3 separate regions of the Homo sapiens genome follow, and regions 2 and 3 are each linked to region 1. The links come from fine-mapping of genetic effects on gene expression. A gene starts in region 1. Each other region holds a variant in brackets. All regions are shown on one strand. Distances are between the middles of the regions.

Region 1 (8,786 bases):
GAGAGGCCGAGACTGGAGGATCCCTTGAGCTCAGGAGTTCAAATCCAACCTGGGCAACATAGACAGAGTCTGTCTCTAAAAATAAATAAATGAGCAAAGAAAGAAAAGAAGAACACCTTTTCAGGAGCAATAATGCAACAACATTATAGGAATTTTTAAAATAGTGTATATATTTTTTTCAGCTGTTGTCCCCACTCATGCTGGGGCCGGTGCCTCATTATGGAAAATTTAATTTGTACAATAATCCTAGGAGGTAGATTCTATTAGTATCTCTACTTTACATTTGTAGACACTGAGACTCTGACAAGTGAAGTATCTTGAGCAGGAACAGCCAGCTATTAAACGACAGAGCCCAGCCTCATAGAGTTGTTAAGTTATGCTGGTCCACAGTACAATGTATCCCCAACAAATGATGGCTCTTATTATTTTCCAAGTTTCTCCAGTGAAATTGTATATTTTTATAATAAGGCTCTGACTTTCCCAATAAATGTTATTTTTTTAAAAAAAATCAAACCAGAAGGGCACGGTGGCTCACACCTGTAATCCCAGCACTTTGGGAGGCTGAGGCGGGTAGATCATGAGGTCAGGAGATAGAGACCATCCTGGCCAGCATGGTGAAACCCCATCTCTACTAAAAATACAAAAATTAGCTGGGGGTGGTGGCACTTGCCTGTAATCCCAGCTACTCAGAGGCTGAGGCAGGAGAATTGCTCGAACCAGAGAGTTGGAGATTGCAGTGAGCTGAGATCACACCACTGCACTCCAGCCTGGCGACAGAGTGAGACTCTGTCTCAAAAAAAAAAAAAATCAATTGACTCGGGACAGGGCGCAGTGGCTCACGCCTGTAATCCCAGCACTTTGGGAGGCTGAGGTGGGCGGATCACAAGGTCAGGAGACGGAGACCACACTGGCCAACATCGTGAAACCCCGTCTCTACTAAAAATACAAAAAAATTAGCTGGGCATGGTGGCGTGTGCCTGTAGTCCCAGCTACTTGGGAGGCTGAGGCTGGAGAATCGCTTGAATCTGGGAGGTGGAGGTTGTGGCGAGCCACGATCGTGCCACTGCACTCCAGCCTGGTGACAGAGCAAGACTCAAAAAAAAAAAAAAAAAAAAAATCAAACGACTGGCCTGCCAGGTTAGAGGGCTCCCATTTTCCTCCCAGGAAATAGATGTTTACTGAGTGTCTGCCTGCTGCGGAATCTACAGCCAGGCCCTGGGTGGGAAGAAGGGATGGGGTAAATCCTGGTGCCTGGGTAAATGCCACTCACGATCTGGTTCTTGCTGAGGCAGGAATCAGAGGGCAGACCACAGCAGGGCTCATGAGACCAGAGCTCCTGCTTCCCACGCTTGCTTATCTCCATGAGCAAGGTGACAGTATGAAGTTGCTACTCACCCTGACCATGGGTCCAACCTCAAAAAACACTTGGCCCCGACATGATCTCAGTCTTTCTCATCTTCATATACCTAAAACCTCAGAAAACTTTCTGGGAGCAGCTCAGCAACAAGAGAGCTCTTCCTATGTCCACTCTCCAGTCACACTTTCCGCCCAGACTCCTCCCTTGGCAGTAGGTCTGTACCACCTTCTTCCTTGGCTTATCTATGCCTGCCTTGTTTACCAGAGTGAAAGTTTCTAGGAAGAGCGTGGACTCTTGAGGCTGACCGTTCTGGGTTTGAATCCACTTCTGCTTCCTGCCTTTATAATCTTATGCAAGCCGCTGTACTACCCTGAGCTTGTTTTCTCATCTGTTTTTTTCTTTTTTCTTTTCTTTTCTTTTTTTTTTTTTTGACAGAGTTTCACTCTTGTTGCCCAGGCTGGAGTGCAATGGTGCGATCTCAGCTCACCGCAACCTCCGCCTCCCAGGTTCAAGCGATTCTCCTGCCTCAGCCTTCCTGAGTAGCTGGGATTACAGGCATGCGCCATCATGCCCGGCTGATTTTGTATTTTTAGTAGAGACGGGGTTTCTCCATGTTGGTCAGGCTGGTCTCGAACTCCCGACTTCAGATGATCCGCCTGCCTCAGCCTCCCAAAATGCTGGGATTACAGGCGTGAACCACCACGCCCGGCCCTCATCTGTAAATTTCATGTTACCATCTGGTACTTGGCACTCAGTAGTAGTAGCTCTCTTTAGCTTCCAATTTGCATATAAAGAATGCTGTCCACTTTGGGAGGCAGAGATGGGCGGATGGCTTGAGCTCAGGAGTTTGAGACCAGGCTGGGCAACATGGCAAGACCCCGTCTCTACAAGAAAATACAAAAACTAGCTGGGCGTTGTTGTGCACACCTGTAGTCCCAGCTACACTGGTGGCTGTGATGGGAGGATAGCTTGAGCCTGGGAGGCGGATGTTGCAGTGAGCAGAGCCTACCCTTCCCTGAATGTGGTAGGCTAGAAAGTCAAACGGAAAATTAAAAAAAAAAAAAAAAAAAAGCAACAGAAAAACACTCTTGGGTTGTGCAGAGAAAGGGCTTTTGAACCTGGGCACAAAGAAGTGAGTGCCTGAGATCAGAAATCATAAACTCCCAGACCATCACAGCTGAAAGGGTGAAGAGATGATGATGATGATTAACAGCAGGAAACGTTTTTGAAAAAGTGCTCTCTACAGGTGTTTCTGTTTCGGCTTTCCCCTTTAAAATCGTGTACTTTGCATTACCTTATTTAATCCTCACGGCAACCCAGTGGGGGTAGGTATTATCACTGTTTTACAGATATAAAAACTAAGGTGTATAAAGTGCCCAAGAACACACAGTAAGGAGCCAGGACTCCTAATTCCAAAGTTCGTGGTCTTAACTGCCTTTAGCTGTTTTGGTGACTGAGTCTAATCCAACACAATTTTACAGATGAGGCTCTGGGAGGGGAAATTGTCTTACCCAACTCTTAACACAAGGGAACTAGAATTTGGGCCGCCCTTCCGGGCGCCAATCTGGTCAAGGATTTGTCACAGAAACTCAGATTTAGGAAACATTTATTAAGTACTTGCATCATTGCAATCCATCCTCAAAGCAGCCTCCGTGAAGTATTACAGTACTTCGTGTTACAATACTGATCATATGGGGAAATAAGCTAAGAGGGATAATTCCTCCCAAGATCAATTTAGCAAAATAGCGGCACTGTCGGGATCACACATTCAGGTCCTGAATGTGAGGCTGCCAGCAGTTTCATTAACCTAATCCCAGGCTCCTTCCTCCCGCACCTGAGGGTAGGAACGAACCACCCCCCCCCCCCACCCCGCCCCGGACCTGGAGCCCTCTCAGAGCGGTGCATTCTGGGATTCGCCCGCGAAGAATACCGACTCTGTGGGCCAATAGAATCCGAGCACAGGCGACTGTATCCACCTTCGCTGTCTGCAGGTTGCTCAGGCCTCCCTCAAACTAGCCAATGAGAAGTGCACGGGTCCTGGTCGCCTAGGAAACCGCGTGACAACAAGATGGCGGCGCTGCGGGACGGCTAGCGGCCCTGCGTGGTGAGTCTGGCTTAAGACCTTTCTGCCCCTGGAGTCCCCACGCAGGCTGGAGCCCGAGCCCCGAGGGCCTGCGAGCTCCGCGGCTCCCACAGGAGAGGTTCAAGACCCTGCTTACCATGACTACGCGTGGAGGCGGAAGGAGGCGACACGGCCTCCAGGGCTGGGTTAGATCGTGATAGACGTCGCTCCCTGAGCGCGTCCTGGGGGCATTAGGGAGTCCTGGCAGCGGGCCGGACCGTGTCCCCGCCAGAGCTCTGGGCTCTGGGGATGACGGAGAGGCCGAGGAGGTGTGAAGAAGAATGTTGTGAGTCAAGCACAGCACTGAGTTTGGTTCCAAAGATGTAGAGGCATGGTGCAGAGATTTGCTCTCAGAGCCAGGTCTGAAGTGGGTGACAACTCTGCCTTAAGGACCTTTTGGCCTGAGGGGTAGTCACAGTCCTGCCCTTGGAAGCCCCAAAGTGAAGGAGTTAGGCGACTGTCCTCAGGGCTCCCTAATCTGAAGGAGAAAGAGATATGCCCCTGCCCTCAGGAGTCCCCCCAAACGGACAGGGAAATGCAGCCTTTGCCTTCAGGGGCCCTTGTAATCTGGGAGAAGATTAACCTGGAGACAATGTGTCGGACTGGACTGGAGTGACACTGGAAGTAGGGAAGTCAGTTGGGAGCCATGTGACAGCCCCCAGAATGGGCAGTGAGAGTCCCACTAGGACGGCCGACGGTGGCCATGGAAAGGGGCAGCTATATGTGAGAGAGTTTAGCCTGCAGGGTTTGATGTAAGAGGCAAGATGGCGTAAGAGGGAAGGAAGGAGAGAAAAAATGTGGTTGGGTGATGGGGTCCCATTAAGAAGGGGGAAGTGGGAGGAAGTGAGTTTGACGAAAATGTTGGATTTGGTTTAGGAGTTTTGTTTTTTTTTCCCATGACAGCTTTATTGAGATATAATTCACGTATTACATACTTCACTCCTTTAAAGTGTAAATTTCAATTTTTAGTATATTTTAGTATATATTCCATTTATATGAAATGTGCAGTGTGGGCAAGTCTATAGAACAGAAAGTAGATTTGTGGTTGCCTAAGGCTGCCTTGGAAAAGGGGTGGGGGCTGGAGGGTAAATTGGGGGTGACTGCCAAAGGGTACAGGGTTTGTTTAGGCTGACGAAAATGTTCTAAAATTGTGATGGTAGTACAGCTCTGTGAATATACTAAAAAGAAAATTACACTGTAAGAAGGTGAAATATGTGAATTATATCTCAAAGCTGTTTTATGAAAAAGGTTGCATACTGTATAATTCCATTTGTGTAACTTTTTTGAAGTAAGAAAATTATAGAGATGGGCCAGGTGGGGTGGCTCACGCCGGTAATCCTAGCACTTTGGGAGGCTGAGGCAGGAGAATTGCTTGAACCTGGGAGGCGGAGGTTGCAGTGAGCCGAGATTGCGCCATTGCTCTCCAGCCTGGGCGACAGAGCGAGACTCCATCTCAAAAAACAAAACAAAAAAAGTATTGAGGGGAGCTGGGTGAAGGATACAAAGGATCTTTCTGTACTATTTTCCTAATTTCCTGTGAATCTATAATAATTTTCAAATAAAAAGCTAAAATATAAGTGAAAAACAAACTGAAGGGGAAAAAAAAGAGTTAGCTGGCCAAGGGAAGGGTGCAGGTAGGAGTGGGGAGACCGTTCTGGGAGTGGGGGGATTGAGGTTGAGGCAGGGGGGATACACATGCATTTGAGGCATTGCTAGAAGTTGAGGTGGCTCAAGTGTGGGAGGCGGCAAGATGGGAGATGAGGTCAGGAGACATAAGCAGGGACCAGGTCACCTATATCAAGGAATTATGAATTTTTTTTTGAGATGGAGTCTTGCTCTGTCACCCAGGCTGGAGTGCAATGGCGCAATCTCTGCTCACTGCAACCTCCGCCTCCTGGGTTCAAGCAATTCTTCTGCCTCGGCCTCCCAAGTAGCTGGGATTACAGGTGCCTGCCACCAAGCCCGGCTAATTTTTGTATTTTTAGTAGAGATGGGGTTTTGCCACGTTGGTCAGGCTGGTCTTGAACTCCTGACCTTAGGTGATCCACCCTCCTCGGCCTCCCAAAGTGTTGGGATTATAGGTGTAAGCCACCGTGCCTGGCCAGAATTTTGAATTTTTTTCTGTGGGTGAGAAGTGCTGGGATTATAGGCATGAGCCACCGCTCCCGGCCTGCTTTATGTTTTAAGATCTCTCTGGTAGCACATGGGAACTAATGAAGGGAGCCTTGGCCATACAACCCGTGAGGCTGCCCAGACAGGGCAGGGGCTGGGGCAGGGTGGGGACAGATTTGGGAGGCTGGATGCTGGGGGTGAAGAAACTCTGGGCCTGATCCTTGAGGAGGGCTCCTTCCAAGGAAGGGGCAGGGCATGATTCTCAAACTCTGCAGTGAAGGCATTGGAGGCTGCCTCCAGGCAGCATAGATTCCCTTGCTGACTGACTTCAGAAGTAGGGTTGAGGCCAGAACCAGACATCTTCAAAGTGGAACTTCTTGGATTTGTCCTAAAAAATTTGGTCCAGGCTGGGTGCAGTGGCTCATGCCTGTAATCCCAGCACTTTGGGAGGTCGAGGGGGGCGGATCACCTGAGGTCATTTACTGAATAGAGTAGTAGCCTTCGATTATGTCCTTCAGGTGCACTCCTTTTTCCAGAAGGAAGAGGAAAGGAAAGGAAACTAACATTTACGAGTGCTTCCTATGTGGCAGCAACAGCAAAAACAACAGCAGCCCCAACTCACATTTTTCAGTGCTTCCTTTGAGCTTGGCGCTGGGCTAGACCTTCTCTGTTATCTCTGAATCTGCTCAGAACCCTGCCTGTGCCAGTACTATTACGACCCCCATTTTATACTAAAAGAAACTGAGGGTGGGTTACTCCAGTGAGTGGCAAAACCTGGCATCTTAACCTTGGTGTCACATGGACTGTGTCTTTTTTTTTTTTTTTTTTTTTGAGATGGAGTTTCGCTCTTGTTGCCCAGGTTGGTTGGAGTGCAATGGTGCAGTCTCATCTCATTGCATCCTCCCCACCTCCTGGGTTCAAGCGATTCTCGTGCCTCAGACTCCCAAGTAGCTGGGACTACAGGAGCACGCCACCACGCCCAGCTAATTTTTGTGTTTTTAGTAGAGACAGGGTTTCACCATGTCGGACAGCTGATCTCGAACCACTGACCTCAGGCGATCCACCCACCTCGGCCTGTGTCTTGATTGAATCCTGCCTGTGGGTTGGCCTCTCTGGCTCTGAGATGTTGGGAGTGGCACCTGGTTTCTGGTGGGAGGGAAGGAGATACTTGGGCTTTGTGTCACCCAGCTGGCTGATGGACGGACAGCCTCCTGGGTAGTAGCATTTTCAGGCTCTAAGTTTGGGAAAGTTCCAGGCTTCTGACTCATTTCTGCATCCCATCCCACCCTCACAGTACTTTCCCAAGCACCACCAGGCCAAAGGTCTCTCAGTTCAGAGCAGAAAGCCGTATACCCAGAGGAGCAGGCAGATAACAGAAACTTCCAGAAACCTCTGTGGAGACAGTGGAAGAGGCAAAAGGTACTGCTGCCTAGACAGCGCTTCCCATTAGGAAGAGTAGCCAGGGAAGTGGAAACTTCAGGCTACCCCCTGGGCTTGGAGCCCTGAGTCTGTCCCCAGGGGCTGACTTCCTGCATTCCTCTAGGGAGTTCCTGACAGCTGGATTCTAGAAGTAGAACTATGAGCTCACCTTTGGCCTCCCTTAGCAAGACCCGAAAAGTGCCCCTGCCCTCGGAGCCTATGAATCCTGGGTAAGGAGCCAGCCTCAGGGGTCTTTCTGTCCCCGCCTCTGTATCCTCTTCTATCCTTCCATGGCCAGAGGACAGTGACTCCTAGTGTCTTGGGGAATACAAAGAAGGGCCACATAGCCTTCCCTGACCACTGTCTTTTTCTTTATACCTTCTTCTGGGGCACCCAACTTTGGATCTGAGCATAAACTGGGTTGTGCTTTTAGTAAGGTATGGGCCCTGTAGGAGTGGCTTGGCATCCCATCTGTTCATTCACTGTTCATTGATTAATTCTGCAAACACAGATGGTCTACGGACCTATCCTGGGCCAGGCCCTGTGTGGGGTTCAGTAAAGGGAATCTTTTACATCTGTCTAGCACTTTCATGTTTTCAAAACATTTTTTACCTCTCTTCCTTCTTGCTCTCTGGAATACCACTTTGAGTCTTTTTTTTTTTTTTTTTTTTTTTTTTTTTAAAGACCAAGTCTCGCTCTGTCGCCCAGGCTGTGGATTGCAGTGGCACGATCTTGGCTCACTGCAACCTGTGCCTCCTGAGTTCAAGCGATTCTCCTGCCTCAGCCTCAGTAGCTGGGACTACAGGCGCATGCTATAACACCTGGCTAATTTTTTGTATTTTTAGTAGAGACGGGTTTCACTGTGTTACCCAGGATGGTCTCGATCTCCTGACCTCGTGATCTGCCCACCTCGGCCTCCCAAAGTGCTGGAATTACCAGCCACCGCGCCTGGCCCCACTTTGAGTCATTCTAAGGCCTAGAAGATTCAGAGAGGTTAAGCAACAGGCCTCACAGCCTTTGCAGAGCAGAGCTGGGGCTGAGCTCATGGGCTTTGCAAGCCTTGTAGTCTTCCCACCTAAGACTCTGCTCTTCACCCCTTCCCCATCCTTCTCCACTGGGTGAAGTCAGACACCTCGAAGCCTGTCCCTTGTCTCACCCCAGGCTGGGGCTGGGATTTGGGGCTGGAAGTCCTCAGGAGTTAGAGGCCCTGCTTCCATCTCTTTGAGCTTTGGCTGAAGTCCGGTGCCCAGAGCCTTATCCCTGGTATCATTCCAGGGGCCCTAACTTATATTTCTTCCTTCTTCCTGCCTGGGTTCCCAGGAGGCGAGGAATCCGCATCTATGGAGATGGTAAGTGTGCCCCGCCCTCGTGCCCTCTTCGCCTCTCATGTGCTTGCACCTCCTACAGTTGGACCGATGGAGAGAAATCACACGAGAAAGGCCCTTGTCAGCTGGAGCAGCGGCCTCCACCGTGTTCTGTGCAGCTCCCATGCTGTCCTCCCTGAGGGCTGGGCTTCCCTCCTGGAAGCTCTCAGATTAGGAGGCCCCATACCCTTGGCACAGATGTTGCCACTCACATTTGAACCCCTTGACCCACTGTGGGACTGGCCAGTGTGTGCCTAGAAACCAAGTGAGGGCCAAGAGATTACCCAGCCCAGGGGTTTGGATCCCAGCCCCCCTTCCCCCTCCAGCCTCCTCCAGTGTGACAGCCTTTCTCCCGGGAGGCCTGTCCACACATTGCCACCCTGACTCTTGTAGCTCAGGCCTTTGGATCCCT
Region 2 (10,884 bases), 67 kb after region 1:
ATGATGTACCAATGGCTGTGTCCCCACTGTCGGCTACACTTGAACAGCGGCTGAAGCGGCTCCGAAAGGGCTCCGAGATAACTGGGGTCTGCCATTCAGTCCCCAGGGAACTGCCCTTCTGAATCACATCGGAACCTGAAACAAGAGGCATTTCCCACCTTTACTGTGAACCAGCTGATGTAACCCCATCAGATCTTTTTTTAAAAAATCACATAAACCTAAGAGAATAGCAGCAACCCACCCCTTTCTCTCTCCTGTGCCTATTTCAGCTGCTCCGATCTAGTTTTTTTTTTTTTTTTTTTTTTTTTTGAGACGGAGTCTGCTCTGTCACCCAGGCTTGAGTGCAGTGGCGCGCAGCTCACTGCAGCCTCCACCTCCTGGGTTCAAGCAATTCTCTGCCTTAGCCTCCCGAGTAGCTGGGATTACAGGCGCCCACCACCACGCCCAGTTAATTTTTATATTTTTAGTAGAGACGCGGTTTCACCATCTTGGCCAGGCTGGTCTTGAACTCCTGATCTCATAATCCACCCGCCTTGGCCTCCCAAAGTGCTGGGATTACAGGTGTGAGCCACTGCGCCAAGCCTGAGCTAGTTAATTTTAAGTGGAAATAGTATGAGAAGTGAGAATATTCAAAGATGTTAATAAGACCCATGAAGAATCCAGGAGTACTGGAACAGAAAACAATCATATTTAATAGCAGTGGCCATTTATTGAAACCTGTAAAGCCACAGGACCTTACAAACATAATCTTGCCTACCTACTTACTGAAAAGTATTACCACCCCTATTTTACAGAGGGGAGGGCTGATATTTGAATCCAGTTCTTTCTGATTCCAAAACCCACATTCTTTCCTCTTTCTTACAGTTTCTCAATGGTGCTTTTGGCATTCTGGGGATGACCATTCTTCAATGTGTAGTCTATACATTACAGAATGGTTTAGCATCCCTGGTTCCCACTCACTGAATGCCAGCAGCAACCCTCAACCAAGACCACCATCACTGTGAAACCAGAAAATAACCATATAGTTCCAAATGATTCCTAGGGCAACAAGCAGTCCAGTCCCCAGTTGAAAATCATTGCTTCGAGGTTGCAGTGAGCAAAGATTGCGCCACTGCACTCCAGCCTAGGCAACAAGAGCGAAACCCCATCTCAGAAAAAAAAAAAAAAAAAAAGAAAATCACTGCTTCACTGAACCAGGGTACCCTCAATAGGTGAATCCTATTGAGATCAAGGTGAGTTTTGAAAGTCAATCTGAAGAGCCTAGGGCTTTATCTTGAGAGCAACGTGAAGATATCACTAAAACTGCTGAGAAGGTTAAGACAAAAAGACTGATGAGATTTATTTGATTTAAAATATGCTGTTTGGGGGGAGGTAGGTAGGAAGTGTTCAATAAATACTTGATTCACTAACATTCTAGCAAAGACTTAAATTTATTTTCTAAAAACCACTATAATTTTCCTAAGGTGTATCTGGTGATCCATGTAAACAAATAAACAAACAAACAAAAAAACTAATGGCAGCTACTTATCCTCCATTTAACTTAAAGTGTGAAAGCCGATTTCAGAAAATACGGTTCTACAGACTCGCTGATCTAGTGGGAGGCAAATGATTGCTCCCACTAAATGATTACGCCCAAAGTAATTTGGACACAAATTACTTTATTCCTTTCTTCCAAGTTTAGTGCTTCTCTCATCTTTTTAATCTATTTTCTTCTACTTTTGCTCATTTTTTGCTACCCTTACTTTGGCTTTCTACTGAAGGCAACCTGACTTTCCCCAAATACTTCTTCTATTCTTTGGATCACAGTGACTGCCTGATTTGAAAGAATCTTTATACACTCAGTAATCTGTAATTGTTATAGAAGACACAGGCAACAATCCGAGTTTCTGAGCGGCATGAGATTAGCCAATGCTACTATACTAAGTTGGTGTAATTCTAGCCCAAAGCAAAGAAATCCCACCTTCTGGTGAGTCTACACAGCTTTTTCTCTCTAGTCAGTGTAAAATTTGCCAGGCCTTTTGAAACAGTTAAGATTGAGGGCCTCTATTACCATCTTCCTGACTTCCTACTGGAAACCGCTTCCCTGTTACTACTACTAATCTTCCACTCTTCATCGCTACCATTTTTCCATCCACCTACTCCATACCCTAATTCCAAAGAGTTATTTGTTAAAAATATATTTTGGTATATTTATAGAGGTTTACACTTATTTCAAAATTGAAGTTTAAATGCTGAAGTTGGCCGGGTGCAGTGGCTCATGCCTGTAATCCTAGCACTTTGGGAGGCGGGGGTGGGCAGATTACCTGAGCTCAGGAGTTGGAGACCAGCCTGGGCATATGGCGAAACCCGTCTCTACTAAAAATACAAAAAAATTAGCCAGGTGTGGTGGTGCATGCCTGTAATCCCAGCTACTTGGGAGGCTGAGGCACAAGAATCACTTAAACCCAGGAGACAGAAGTTGCAGTGAGCTGAGATTGTGCCACTGCACTCCAGCCTGGGCCACAGAACAAGACTCCGTCTCCAAAAAAAAAAAAGAAAAGCTGAAATTTTTTGTGTTATAGTGCATGTCCTATCAGTAGCATCCTTATCAATTATTAAGACCATTATTAATCTGAATGAGATACTATTGAAGAGAGAAAAAAGCCATAGGAAAGGCATTGTTCCAAAAACTTGCATTATATACATAATTGTCATAGAAACTGTACAAACCTAAGAGAATGTGCAGCACATAGCAGATGTTTAAAAAATATTTCCTGAGGCCGGGTGCAGTGGCTCACGCCTGTAATCCCAGCACTTTGCGAGGCCCAGGCGGGCAGATCACAAGGTCAGGAGATTGAGACCATCCTGGCTAACATGGTGAAACCCCGTCTCTATTAAAAAATGCAAAAAAATTAGCTGGGCATGGTGGCGGGCACCTGTAGTCCCAGCTACTTGGGAGGCTGAGGCAGGAGAATGGCATGAACCCGGGAAGCGGAGCTTGTAGTGAGCCGAGATCACGCCACTGCACTCTAGCCTGGGTGACAGAGCGAGACTCCATTTCAAAAAAAAAAAAAAAATTCTGCTGAATGAATCTTGAATTGATTCAACCAAAGCTTATAATGGTGCCTACTCTATGCAAGGCAGCATGCCTAAGAGAATACACCAAACATTTACCAAATATCTACGCTGAGTAAGGCACTGTGAGATTTTAAAGTTAAATAAAACATACCCTGAGTTGAATTAAACGTGCCCTCTTCTTTACCAATACCCCAGAATTCAACAAGTCATTTTTCTAAAATATTACTTATTTGAAATATATATTATCTACTTAATATGCCTGCACAGTGCATACATATATTTATGTGTTTAATATACAGTCAGCTCTCCATATCCATGGTTTCTTTTTTTTCCCCTTTTTTTTTTTGAGACACAGTCTCACTCTGTTGCCCAGGCTGGAGTGCAGTGGCGTCATCTCAGCTCACCTCAACCTCTGCTTCCCGTGTTCAAGTGATTCTCCTGCCTCAGCCTCCCAAGTAGCTGGGATTATTATAGGCACATGCCACTGCACCCGGCTAATTTTTGTATTTTTAGTAGACATGGAGTTTTACCATGTTGGCCAGGCTGGTCTCAAACTCCTGACCTCAGGTGATCCACCCGCCTTGGGCTCCCAAAGTGCTGGGATTACAGGCATGAGCCACAGCGCCTGGCCATATCCGTGGTTTCTACGTTTGTGAATTCAACCAATTTTTTTTTTTAATGGTATCTTACTGAATGTGCATAAGACTTGTTTTTCTTCTTATTCCCCAAACAATACAGTATAACTATTTACATAGCATTTACATTGCATTGGGTATTACAAGTAATCTAGAGACGATTTAAGGTAAACATTAGGATATACACAGGTTATATGCAAATACCACACCATTTTATATCAGGGACTTGAGTATCTGTGGATTTTGCTATCTGCAGGAGGTCTTGGAACCAGTCCGCCATGGACACTTAAGGACTGTATATATTTAATATATCTACTGAAGTTTCAAAATCTTGTTAATCCATTCTGAAGATAAATTCCTGAGTTTCTAGTAACAATGCAACGGAATCTGTTGGCATCCAAGCAGAATTCCTATTTTTGTGGGCTAGCAGATGACTGACCCACCCAGAGGACAAAGACAACATAGAACACAGTAATTTATGCTGTGTTTTTCTGATTTCAAATGGAACTATGTTCCAAAGTCATTCTGTTCCAATCCTTTATATGTCGTCCTCTCCCAACCACGTGGTCCTGTTGAAAGCCACATAGCACAAGAGATAAATACTTGTTCCCTCAGAGACCTGTTTTTATATTCAATGAAGCCCCATGTTATTTTTATTCTTTTAGCACCAGCATTTCAGTGAATGCTTGTTTGTTCAATATTTACCTTAAGGAATATGAAAAAACAGAACAAAGGTCAGAATTTAACCCAGAAAACTTCTGACTACTCACTCGGTGAAGTGACGTGAGAGATCCCCTCAGTTGGATATTTCTCCTGCATGGCCATCAATCACAGTTATTTAAGCCAACTGTAGAATGAAGGAATAACCAGTCAGTTCTCTGAAGTATCTTTAATTCCCCGCAACTCAGTTCC[C/T]ATTCAACTGAAACTGTCAAAACCATATAGAATATTCAAGTATTTGGCCAGGCACAGTGGCTCACACCTGTAATCCCAGCACTTTGGGAGGCCAAGGCGGGCAGATCAACTGAGGTCAGGAGTTCGAGACCAGCCTGACCAACATGGGGAAACCCCATTTCTACTAAAAACACAAAAATTGGCCGGGCATGGTGGCACACATCTGTAGTCCCAGCTACTTGGGAGGCTGAGGCACAAGGATTGCTTGAACCCGGGAGGCAGAGGTTTCAGTGAGCCAAGATCACACCACTGCACTCCAGCCTGGGCAACTGAGCAAGACTCCATCTCAAAAAAAATAAAAAAGAATATTCCAGTATTCTAAATGTTATATTCCTAAGGATATTTAGGAGTAAATATGTTTTTACATGTTTTACTTCTAAGGATATTTTTAAGACAAAGTAAATCCCAATACTCCACTCTACTTCTCTTCCCAAATCCAGTATAGAAAACCTAGAACCAGAGATTACCAATACAGATTCCATACGGTCCTAGAACCCTTCTGATTTTTATAAAATTTAAAAATATTACTTTTAATTAACAAACTTTACCATGAATCTTCTTAGCCATGGGGACCTGATGACAGGACGAGGTGGATAAAGAACTAAAGAACTAAACCAACAGTGAAGTATTACAGCATCAATTATGATTAACACAAAACAAATTCCTCAATTCTTCCAGTAATTAAAGTCAGTCATACGATGTAAAAAGATGGGAAAGAATTCTTGCTCATAAGTAGAACTCCAATCCTGAGCTAGGAACGTGAAGTTCTCGTCCCATGTTCTCACTCCTTAAAATATTTATATTTACAGTACACTAGGGGTAGGTGCTGAGAATTCAGCAGAAGTGGATTTGAAGTCTAAACAAATACACTTGAACCCACTAAACATTAAGTTATCAATTTATTAGCTGTGTAACCTTGGGCAAATTTCTTAGTATCTCTGTTCCTCATTTTCTTCATATAAAAATGAGGATAACAACACAACCTAATTCATGTTAATTCACTTATAATTAACTTACAACAGTTCCTGACACATACTAAGTGCTGTTATTACTTGGCAATTTACATCAACAAAAGTAGCACTGTACAGCCCATGGAAGATCAAGGAGTATCAACTCAGAAACTCTAAATTTATAAAAGCCCCAAAAGAGTTTGGGACAATTCGGCCGGGCTCAGTGGCTCACGCCTGTAATCCCAGCACTTTGGGAGGCCGAGGCAGGCGGATCACCTGAGGTCAGGAGTTCGAGACCAGCCAACATGGTGAAACCCCGTCTCTACTAAAAATACAAAAATTAGCCAGGCATGGTGGCAGGCGCCTGTAATCCCAGCTACTTGGGAGGCTGAGGCAGGAGAATCGCTTGGACCATGGAGGCGGAGGCTGCAGTGAGCCAAGATCGCGCCATTGCACTCCAGCCTGGGCGACAGAGCAAGACTCCGTCTCAAAAAAAAAAAAAAAAGAGTTTGGGACAATTCACAGAACATAATTCTATCACTCTGGAGAAAAAAGACTATATGGTACTATTTCTCTAATGTACTTTAGTGACCTCTATAGTATTCTCTTGTTACTAAGAGAATACTATAGAGGTCACTAAAGTACATAACAACCCAAACCCTTATTAATTCACTGCATCTACAATAGAAAGGGTATCATCCTCCACAATTCCAGTTCTTCACATACTGGGTGAGGGAAGCTTTGTTCAGTAATAAAAGCTTTAGTTTATGGCAAGTATGATTCAGTGAGTTAAATGATGACATAGAATGATTAGATTACCTCCTTACTAGTGATTTCCTTTCTTGTCAATATCAAAATCCTTTTCTTCACTCCTTTCTTTAAAGGATAACAAAATGGTAGGCGCACTGGATTCTAAGGTGTTTCTAAATTCAGACAAGTTGAAAATACGGTGACAGAAGGAGAACTCCGAGTTACCCTATGACTCAGCAATTCCACACTGAAGTATACACCCAAGAGAAATGAAAACACAGGTTTACACAAAAGCTTCAATAAGAATGTTCGTAGCAGCATTATTTACAATAGCCAAAAAGTGGAAACAACACAAACGTCCATGAGCTAATGAATGGATACATAAAATGTGGTATATCCAAAAAACAGAGTATTATTCAGCAATAAAAGGAAGTACTGATACATGTGACAACATGGATGAACACTGAAGACATGCAAAGTCAAAGAAGCCAAACAAAAGGCTTGATCCTATTTATATGAAATGTCAGAATAGGCAAATCCATAGAGACACAGATTAGTGATTGCAAAGGACTGAGAGGAGGGAGGGTAGGAGAATAGGAAGGGACTGCTAATGGATACCGGGTTTCTTTTCAGGGTGATCAAAATGTTCTGAGATTAGATAGTGGTGACTGACTGCACAACCTTGCCAATATATTAAAAACCTCTGAATTGCACACACATAAAATTAAATTTTATGTTATGTGATATAAGCCAAAAAAAAAATTCTAAGACATCCCCAACCACCTGAATGGATCCCTCCCCTTGGCCAATGGCATTCCAAAGTTAAGCTGAAAAACCTGTTAAGGCCATGATGGTGGTAGTGGTGGTGGAGTCCTACACCCCTCATTATACCCTCCTCCCTTCTGGAATTTAGGAAAAGCATTAACATTAACACAGATGTCTGTAAGAAACATTTATAATCTATTCTCTCTAAAGCCTACTATTTGGAGGCTTCATCTGTACAATAAAATGTTGATCCCCAGGATACCTTAACCCAGACATTCCTTTCTATTGATAACAACTTTCAACCAACTGCCAATCAGAAAATTTTGAAATCTACCTATGACCTGGAAGCCCCCACCCACTAAGAGTTGTCTTACCCTTCCAGATCAATGTAAATCTTACATGTATTTGACTGATGTCTCATGTCTACCTAAAATGTTTAAAACCAGGGCACACGTTATCAGGATCACCTGAGGGCTGTGTCAGGGGCCACTGGTCACCCATATTTGGCTCAGAATAAATCCCTTCAAATATTTCAGAGTCTGACCCTCATTGACAACAAATATCTCAAAAAAGAAAAACAGAAAGAAAGAAACCCCGTAAGGAGTAAAACAATACAAAATAAATCATTCTTGACTTAAGAATTAGATGAGCTACTGGTGGAAATTTTTGGGACAACTGAAGGAGACAGAAATTTCCTGGGATAAAAATGAGAGAAGTGAATGTACAAGAAGTAACACACCAGTTATAAAGCTTAGAAAGGGAGTGAATGGAGGCAGACAGAGGGGAAAAAAAAAAAAAGCACCCAACAGGATTGGTTTCCATCTTCAAAGCCCTTTAAACTACAGAAACAGTCACTCATTCAACAAATTTAACATGCATTCTGCACTTACTACCTATCAAACACTGTGCTCAACACTTTTTAAGTATCATGTCTCATGTTTCATGTTCACATCAACCCTATGAGGCAGTTACTATTATCCTCATTTTATGGATGAGAAAATAAAGGTTTACAGTAGTGAAGGTCATATGGCTAGGAAGAGGCTTCAAAGCCAGGACTGTACTCTAACGCTACAGTAGTCTAGTCAGCATTCTACATGTGACAAAACACAAAAAAAGAGATCAAGCATGGCACCACAAGTTGGAGTTTCTGCCTCAGACAGCTAGAGCTGCAAGCCTCAATTATATGAGCAGTAAAAGCTCATAAAATTTCTTCACTTTGTCCTTGGTCATCACCTAGGCTTTATTTCTCAAGTTGCTACCCAAGAATTAGATTTTGACTGCCGTAAGTATTTTTCCCCTATAAGAATTACAATCTAAGTGTGGCCGGGCGTGGTGGCTCACGCCTGTAATCCCAGCATTTTGGGAGGCCGAGGCGGGCGGATCACCTGAGGTCGGGAGTTTGAGACCAGCCTGACCAACATGGAGAAACGCCGTCTCTACTAAAAATACAAAATTATCCGTGCATGGTGGCGCATGCCTGTAATCCCAGCTACTCGGGAGGCTGAGGCAGGAGAATCGCTTGAACCTGGGAGGCGGAGGTTGCGGTGAGCCGACATCGCGCCACGGCACTCCAGCCTGGGCAACAAGAGCAAAACTCCGTCTCACAAAAAAAAAAAAAAAAAAAAGAATTACAATCTAAGTGTGGAACATCATGCTTGGCAGCTGTTAAGAGAACCACATCAAGACAAGAGAGGATTTGAAGGGATACACAGACAGCTGACACAGACACACGAAGGATCTCACACCATTACACTATTTTCACCGCCTTGATCATTCATTAAACCTTGTGAAAGAGAAGCCAAATCCTTGACAAGAAGTTGCCTTTACAAAGAAAAGTCGTGAGACATACAAAACCACCAGATCACTATAAAGCAGACAAGGTTTGAGGGCAAATAAATGAGGCCTGGCTAGCTTCATCGTCCTTGTATCACCACCGCCCCCTACTTATCCCAGTGTTCAATTCATCAACCGAAATTTACTGCGTGCCTACTATGCGCCTGGCTCTGAGCCACGTGTTGGGAATGTACTGGTGTAAAGGATCGCTCTCATTAACTGAGGTGAAGTAAGCGTTGAATATACTGTTGAACAAATAAACCTGAACACACTAACTTTCAGTTCAACCAAAGCACCAGCTCCTTCTCGCTGAAGGAAGCTTCCTCACCTTCCGCCCTACTGACATTTTGGGGGATTTTTCTTTGTTGTTGGGGGCGTCCTACACACAGTAGGCTGTGTAACAGCATCCCTGGCTTCTTCGCACTAGATGCCAGTAGCAAGCCCTGGAGCTGTGACTATCAAAAGTGTTTCCAGACATCGACCAATGTCCCCAGGGAAGCAAAATCGCCCCGGCCGAGAAGTACCGGGGTAAGGCCCCGCCAAGTGCTTTCCGTCCCACAACCTTAATTCTCTACACAGCCTTCCAATCTCGGCTCAAACTTCTCCTCCTCGGGGAGGGCTCCCTGACCTCTCCGACTAGATCCGCGCCTTCTGTTTTGCGCTCTTTGTAAGATTTCTCCACTCTACCCTCACTGCGCGCCGAGGGATTACCCCGCTTAACGTCGACTCCCAGGGCTGTGCGCTCCGCAAGGGCAAGGAATGCGCCGCTCGCTGTGTCCCTGGCTATCGGCACAGGGCCTGGCACGCAGGTAAAGTGACTGCCGTGGGGTGAACCACGGACGGCAAAGCAAGGCAACGGGGGAAGCGAGGGGAATGGGACGCGAGAGGGCGTATGCCGGGGCACTGGCTTCGGAGCCGAGGCGCATGCGCTTCGCTCTCCCCGGCCCCTCACGGTGGCAGGTCGCGAGCGTCTGAGGCTTCGCCGGAGCTATGGGAGGAGAGGCAAGGTCGGCCACTAGGACTGAGGCTCCCGAAGGAGGAAAACTTACACGGGCCTGAAAGCGGGCGGCGAAATCCCTCACTCGGGAAGACTGACTGCAGCCACCACGTCTGCGGTGAGCGGTGGTTCCCTCCCTCAGCTCCTCTAACGGCCGTTGCACGCCCGCCAGGCCGCGCGCCACAGAACGCGCGTCGTTTGGCCCCACCCCGTTCTGCCGCCTCTGGCCAATCGGGAGTCGAGCCGCGCCGGCTTCCCGCCCCTTTCTATCCTCTTCTGACCAATCGGCAGCCGAGCCGCGTCGGTATCCCGCCCCCACACGCTACCCTCTGCTCAGAGAGCCGGACGGATCTTTCTGCGCATGACCACGTCGCCACTTGGCTCCTTCTCTGCCCCTTGCCGCGTTTTACCTGTAGGTGGAGCTCTGCTCACCTAGACCTGGAGGGGCCCTGCTGGGCCTGTGCAGGTTGGGAAGCTGGCGGCCCGCGGGCGGGGCTGGGGACACGAGAATCCCACTCAGCTTGCCTCACCCTCCTTCCATTCCAACGCCGGTCTATCAGTTCTCACACCTGAAGCAGGGGTTCAGGTTGTGACCAGGAGTTAGGGTGTGGCCTGGGTCACTGACTAGTCAGGGTCAAGGCTTGGTCTGGGTTGGACGCAGTGGTCAGCCTGTGACCAAGGTTCAGGTTGAAGGGTAAAGGATCAGTCCTGCCTCCCTCCCCAAACTTGGTCCACAGGAAAAGGAACTGTTAAGTCCATTTGCATTAATATGCGCTTGAAGAGTCAGACAGGAAAATTGTTTGAAAGGAGAACAGAACCATCAGCCAAAGGAATGAATCTCAGATAGTGAAATTCTGGGTATCTAGAAACCTGACTTGGCAGGGAGAGATACTAAAAAATTGTATAGGAGGCCGGGCGCGGTGGCTCATGCCTGTAATCCCAGCAC
Region 3 (5,000 bases), 110 kb after region 1:
TAGAGATGAAACTGGCAGGAAGGGTGGAGCCTTTCCGAGAAGGAAAGTGCAGAACCTAACCAGATAGGCAGTGACAGCTGAGGCAGATGGAAGTTTAAGAGGCAGACAGCCAGGTGCAGTGGCTCACGCCTGTAATCCCAGCACTTTGGGAGGCCAAGGAGGGTGGATCACGAGGTCAGGAGTTCAAGACCAGCCTGGCCAAGATGGTGAAACCCCCATCTCTACTAAAACTACAAAAATTAGCCAGGTGCAGTGACAAGCACCTGTAATCCCAGCTACTTGGGAGGCTGAAGCAGGAGAATCGCTTGAACCCAGGCCGCAGAGGTGGCAGCGAGCCGAGATCGCGCCACTGCACTCCAGCCTGGGCGATGGAGTAAGACTCCGTCTCAAAAAAAAAAAAAAAAAGGAAAGAAAGAAAGAAAAAGAAAAAAGAAAAAAAAGGAGGGGTGGTGGTGGTGAGGGGGACCAGATCTTGGAATAGACAGAAACTTTGACAAATGGTCCAGAGGCCCGGCTGGGCTGGGCTGAGCAGAGTGTCAGGGCGAGTACCCATTGGGTAGGAGAAGGAAGGCACACCTTTTCCATGCTAACGAGCGCACTGAGCAAGTCTTGCTGTTGAGACATCTGGCGGATGTCCTTGGATGACGTAGTCTCCAACGACCCGCTCGTCGACGAGCGCCTGTTCAACACCTCTGACTCCTGCTCCTGGTTGAAGCGGATTGCGCGCACCTCCTCCACAATCCTGGGGGTGGAGCAGTGAGTGCCTTTCAGAAGGCCTCAGGGGAGGGAAGCAGCCCTCCCACCTCTTCCCTGGCGTCACCCCCGCTTCGCTCTCCCACGCAGCCCTGACAGAGACCCAGGCCGAGCTGTGCCCTTGTGTGAGATGGAAGGAACCTGGAGTCTGGATTCCAGTTCCTCCACCAATAGGGTGGGGGACCTCTGTGGGGCCCAGGCTCTGCCTTATAAATGGTGAGGGCGTGAGGCCAGAAGACTCTGACGCTCCGCCCAGCCTTGACTCACATGACTTGGGGGCAGCCCCAGTACCCTCCCCTACATGTTGAGTTCATCTCGGATCTCCTTGTACTGCCTCAGGTTCTCCTGTATTGCCTCAAGCACCAAGCAAAAGTTGTCACACGTGTTTTCTGAGAGGTTCGACAGGGGGCCTCCCGCAAGGGGTTCCTGGAGGAGACCAGATTTCTCCGAGCGGGCGACCACACAATGCACCAGTGGCAGCTGGTCATTCTCCTCCTCTTCCTCTGCGCCTGTCTGGGAAGCGGGGGATAGAGAGGGGTCGGGACAGCTCAGGCAGGCACGCCCCCGGCACCCTTTTCCTGCTTGGCTTCAGGATGAGTCTCTTAGGACCCCAGGGTTCTAAGGCCCTCATTTCAGCTCTCACCAATCTTAGCCTCACTGCCTTGCTGGGGGAACCCAACTTTAAATGCACATGACCTCCCCCCACCTCTTTAAAAATTCTCACCCCATTTCAAAATTTAGCCCTGCCCCAGATTTCAACCCTGATAAACCCTACCCAGCAAATTTATAAAGCCCTGCCTACCCTCAAGCCCAGGCCTCCAGCACTCCACTCTTTTAGAAGTACTCCACCCCTTTCCCCAACCTTATGGAAGTACTGCCCTGAATGAATAATACCGTAGCTAACATTTATTGAGTGCTTACTATGCGCCAAGCACTGTTCATTTACCCATTAACCCTCATAAAATAACCCTATGAGTTAAGTACTATTATTATTCCCATTTTACAAAAGAAAAAAATTGAGGCTTAGAGTGGGTAAATGCCCCAAGGTCACCCAGCTGCTCAGTTTTGAGTTGCCATAGAAATCTAACATCTAGAAAATCCACACCCCTCAGAAGCCCCAGTTGGTGGGTGGGCACTCAAGATGGGGGGCTGCTGCCTCCAGGCCTCCAACTTGGCTTTCTCCAGGCCCTTGATTATGCAAGCACACACATACATGCACATATGTTCAAGTCCGCTCTCATACACACTCCTTTTCCTCCCTTCTGCCCTCCCCATCCCACGCACCTCACTAAAGGTTATTCGTTGCTGTTGTCCCTGCTCTCCTGCCTTCATCATTTGCTCCAGGTTGGTGGTCACCACGATGACGAACAGGTTGATGCCAATGAAGGCACCGATGGTGATGAAGATGGTAAAGTAGATGGCACCCCCAATCTCCATTGCATATTCCCTCTTCTCTGTCCTGCAGATGGCAGGCAGGGGCCCCATCATTTCCCTGGCCCTTCAAGCCTGAGTTTCCTTGTCATTGAAATGGGAAAATCATCCCAAGGCCTACTAGAACTTCTGCCTGTGTCACTGCTGTTGTGCAGATCCCATTCCCTACTCCTGTCTCAATAGCTGCTCTCTACTAAGCACCTACTGTGCTGCCAGACAGTGAGCTGATTCTCTAACCAACCCTGCAAGGTGGGGACGTGCACATCAACACTATTAAGTTTAATCTATTAGCTACACTCCTTTTTTTTTTTTTGAGATGGAGTCTCGCTGTGTTGCCCAGACTGGAGTGAAGTGGCGTGATCTCGGCTCACTGCAAGCTCCACCTCCTGGGTTCATGTCGTTCTCCCGCCTCAGCCTCCCAAGTAGCTGAGACTACAGGTGCTTGCCACCACGCCTGGCTAATTTTTTTTTTTTTTTTTTGAGACAGAGTCTCACTCTGTCACCTAAGCTGGAGTGCAGTGGCGTGATATGGGTTCACCGCAACCTCCGCCTCCCAGGTTCAAGCGATTCTCCTGCCTTAGCCTCCTGAGTAGCTGGGATTACAGGCGCCCCACCGTCCGGCTAATTTTTGTATATTTAGTAGAGACGGGGTTTCACCTTTTTGGCCAGGCTGGTCTTGAACTCCTGACCTTGTGATCCACCTGCCTCAGCCTCCCAAAGTGCTGGGATTACAGG[T/C]GTGAGCCACTGCACTGGGCTTTGTTTTTGTATTTTTAGTAGAGATGGGGTTTCACTGTGTTAGCCAGGATAGCCTTGATCTGACCTCGTGAGCTGCCCACCTCGGCCTCCCAAGGTGCTGGGATTACAGGCGTGAGCCACCGCGCCCGGCCCCGGCCAGCCTGATTTTTATCCACTACCTATGCCATAATGGAGAATGACTGTAGAAGCCCTTTATCTACTGGGCTTCTATACTCACATGTAGAAGATAAAAAGAAATCAGTTAAGGGGTCCCACTTTCTGGAATAAACTGGAAAGAAATAGGGCTTAGACTTAATAGAAAAGAGGTAAAGAACAGAACACAAAAATGAATGTGGGCAGTGGGTTTAAGAATGAATGAAATGAGACCTGAAGTTCCCAGGAGTTCAGGCAGTTTGGTGGGCTCCAAGGTGGGCTGGGAGGTTGCTCTGTAACCTGAGGCATAACTGCAGACCTGCTGCCTTATCCAAGGCCAACTACCCAGCTGGTTAGCATGATGGGAGAGGTCCCCATTACAGGGTGGGAATGGGACTCTGAATATATGGAGATTCAAGGGTGACAAGGCTTCAGGTATCACAAGTCCAGGTATTTCCTTTTCCTCTGTTTAAAGACCTGGGAACCCCCACTTCTACTGGGCCATCCTCATCCCAATCCCTGGAGCTCCCACTCTCAGCCTGGAGCTCCACCGGCTACCCTGCCCCATAGGTGGGATGAGGCTGGAAGTCCCACTGGCACTCACTGGAAGTCACTGTAGATGTCCACCCAGCCGTCCTGGGTGATGCAGATGAAGAGGGTGTACAGCGCAACCTGTATGTTCTGGAAATGCTTGGGCACGAATGCACCAAAGAGTGTTACTCCAAACACGGAAAAAACCTGTCAGAGAGAAAAGAGCCCCACCCCGACTTCACCAAAGGGCCTGGAAATAGGACACACAAATGTCATGTAAATGAACGCTGCTGAGGAAATCACAGGGATTCAGGCCCACAGGCCTCTCTGCTTTTCCAGACACCCCTCTATTTGCAATGACCCAAGGGCCCTGTTCAGGGAAGGGAAACAGCTGGGGGCGGGGGCAGGCACTGACCAGCATGAAGAAGAGGATGAGGACCATGATATTGGCCATGTCAGGCACCGACTGCAGGATGACGCGGATGATCCGGGCGAGGGGCTCCACCGCCATGCACACATGCACCAGACGAAGCGCCCTGTGGCAGAGCCTGTCAGGGGTGCCCCTAGGCCCTTCCCAGCCCCTTCCCTCCTCATTACCCCCACCAGCTGCCCAGAGAGGCAAAGCTGATCTCCAGCTGGTCGTTATCCCCCCATCTCATTCCTGGGTTCCAGATAGGTCCCCCTCATTTCTCCAGAGCTCCCCGCTCACCTGAGAGTGTAGTTGATGGAGGGAATATTGATTTCATTAATGAAGAACCGCAAGAGCAAGATAAAGACGATAATGAAGTTGAGGATGTTCCAGCCGTCCTGGGGAGTGGGCCAGCCCCAGTGGGGTCTGTCAGGCCCAGCCCATGGGGGCATCCTAGGTCTGCCCTCCCCACATCCCAGGGATGAGGGCTCAATGTCCCTCTCAGAGCAGGGCCAGTCAGCTGCCATCCACTGCTGTTACCCTGCCGCCCCCCAAACAAGCCACAAAACACACGTGTACTCTCTGTCCCATACATGTGTCAATAGCCAAATGCAGTCTCAGAGACACACAGCAAAGACCCTTACAGATACATGGCTGGTCCCTAAGCTGAGTGCCCACCTTGGCTAAAGCATGCTCAAAACAGCCTTGCCCTACAGGTAGGTAACATGAAAACACTTGGCTGTTCCTGCCTTTGTGTGACACACACTACAATTAATAATAAAATGAAAATGGATACTAGTAAAAACATAAGGAATACTGCTTCAGTAGCCAGTTCTGAGGTGAAATAGCTCTCACGGCACAAGAAAGGGAGACAGGCGGGCCAGGCGCGATGGCTCACACCTGTAATCCCAGCACTTTGGGAGTCTGAGGCAGGTGGATCACGATGTCAGGAGTTTGAGACCAGCCTGGCCAACATGGTGAAACTCCA

What was found.
Region 2: its variant is fine-mapped to the expression of UBXN11 in whole blood (TOPMed, PIP above 0.99).
Region 3: its variant is fine-mapped to the expression of UBXN11 in whole blood (TOPMed, PIP above 0.99).

What each region holds. Positions count from the first base shown.
Region 1 is chr1:26,301,267-26,310,052 of GRCh38, reverse strand. It overlaps UBXN11 (UBX domain protein 11), which reads left to right and starts at 3,417. Exons shown (of 15, transcript NM_001389556.1): 1 at 3,417-3,461; 2 at 7,135-7,240; 3 at 8,331-8,359. The coding sequence starts at 7,170. RefSeq lists enhancers at 3,087-3,176, 3,577-3,626, 6,310-7,509.
Region 2 is chr1:26,233,417-26,244,300 of GRCh38, reverse strand. CEP85 (centrosomal protein 85) reads right to left here and starts at 10,101. Exons shown (of 14, transcript NM_001319944.2): 1 at 9,991-10,101; 2 at 4,463-4,539; 3 at 1-135. The coding sequence starts at 4,517. RefSeq lists enhancers at 9,233-9,282, 9,373-9,432, 9,753-9,902. The variant C/T (reference allele first, on the strand shown) is at 4,605.
Region 3 is chr1:26,197,096-26,202,095 of GRCh38, reverse strand. CATSPER4 (cation channel sperm associated 4) reads right to left here. Exons shown (of 10, transcript NM_198137.2): 4 at 4,313-4,410; 5 at 4,019-4,139; 6 at 3,677-3,810; 7 at 2,038-2,212; 8 at 1,055-1,266; 9 at 577-742. Among named protein-coding and RNA genes, the nearest start is that of CATSPER4, 9.0 kb to the right of the region's middle. RefSeq lists enhancers at 1-641, 3,625-4,124. The variant T/C (reference allele first, on the strand shown) is at 2,920.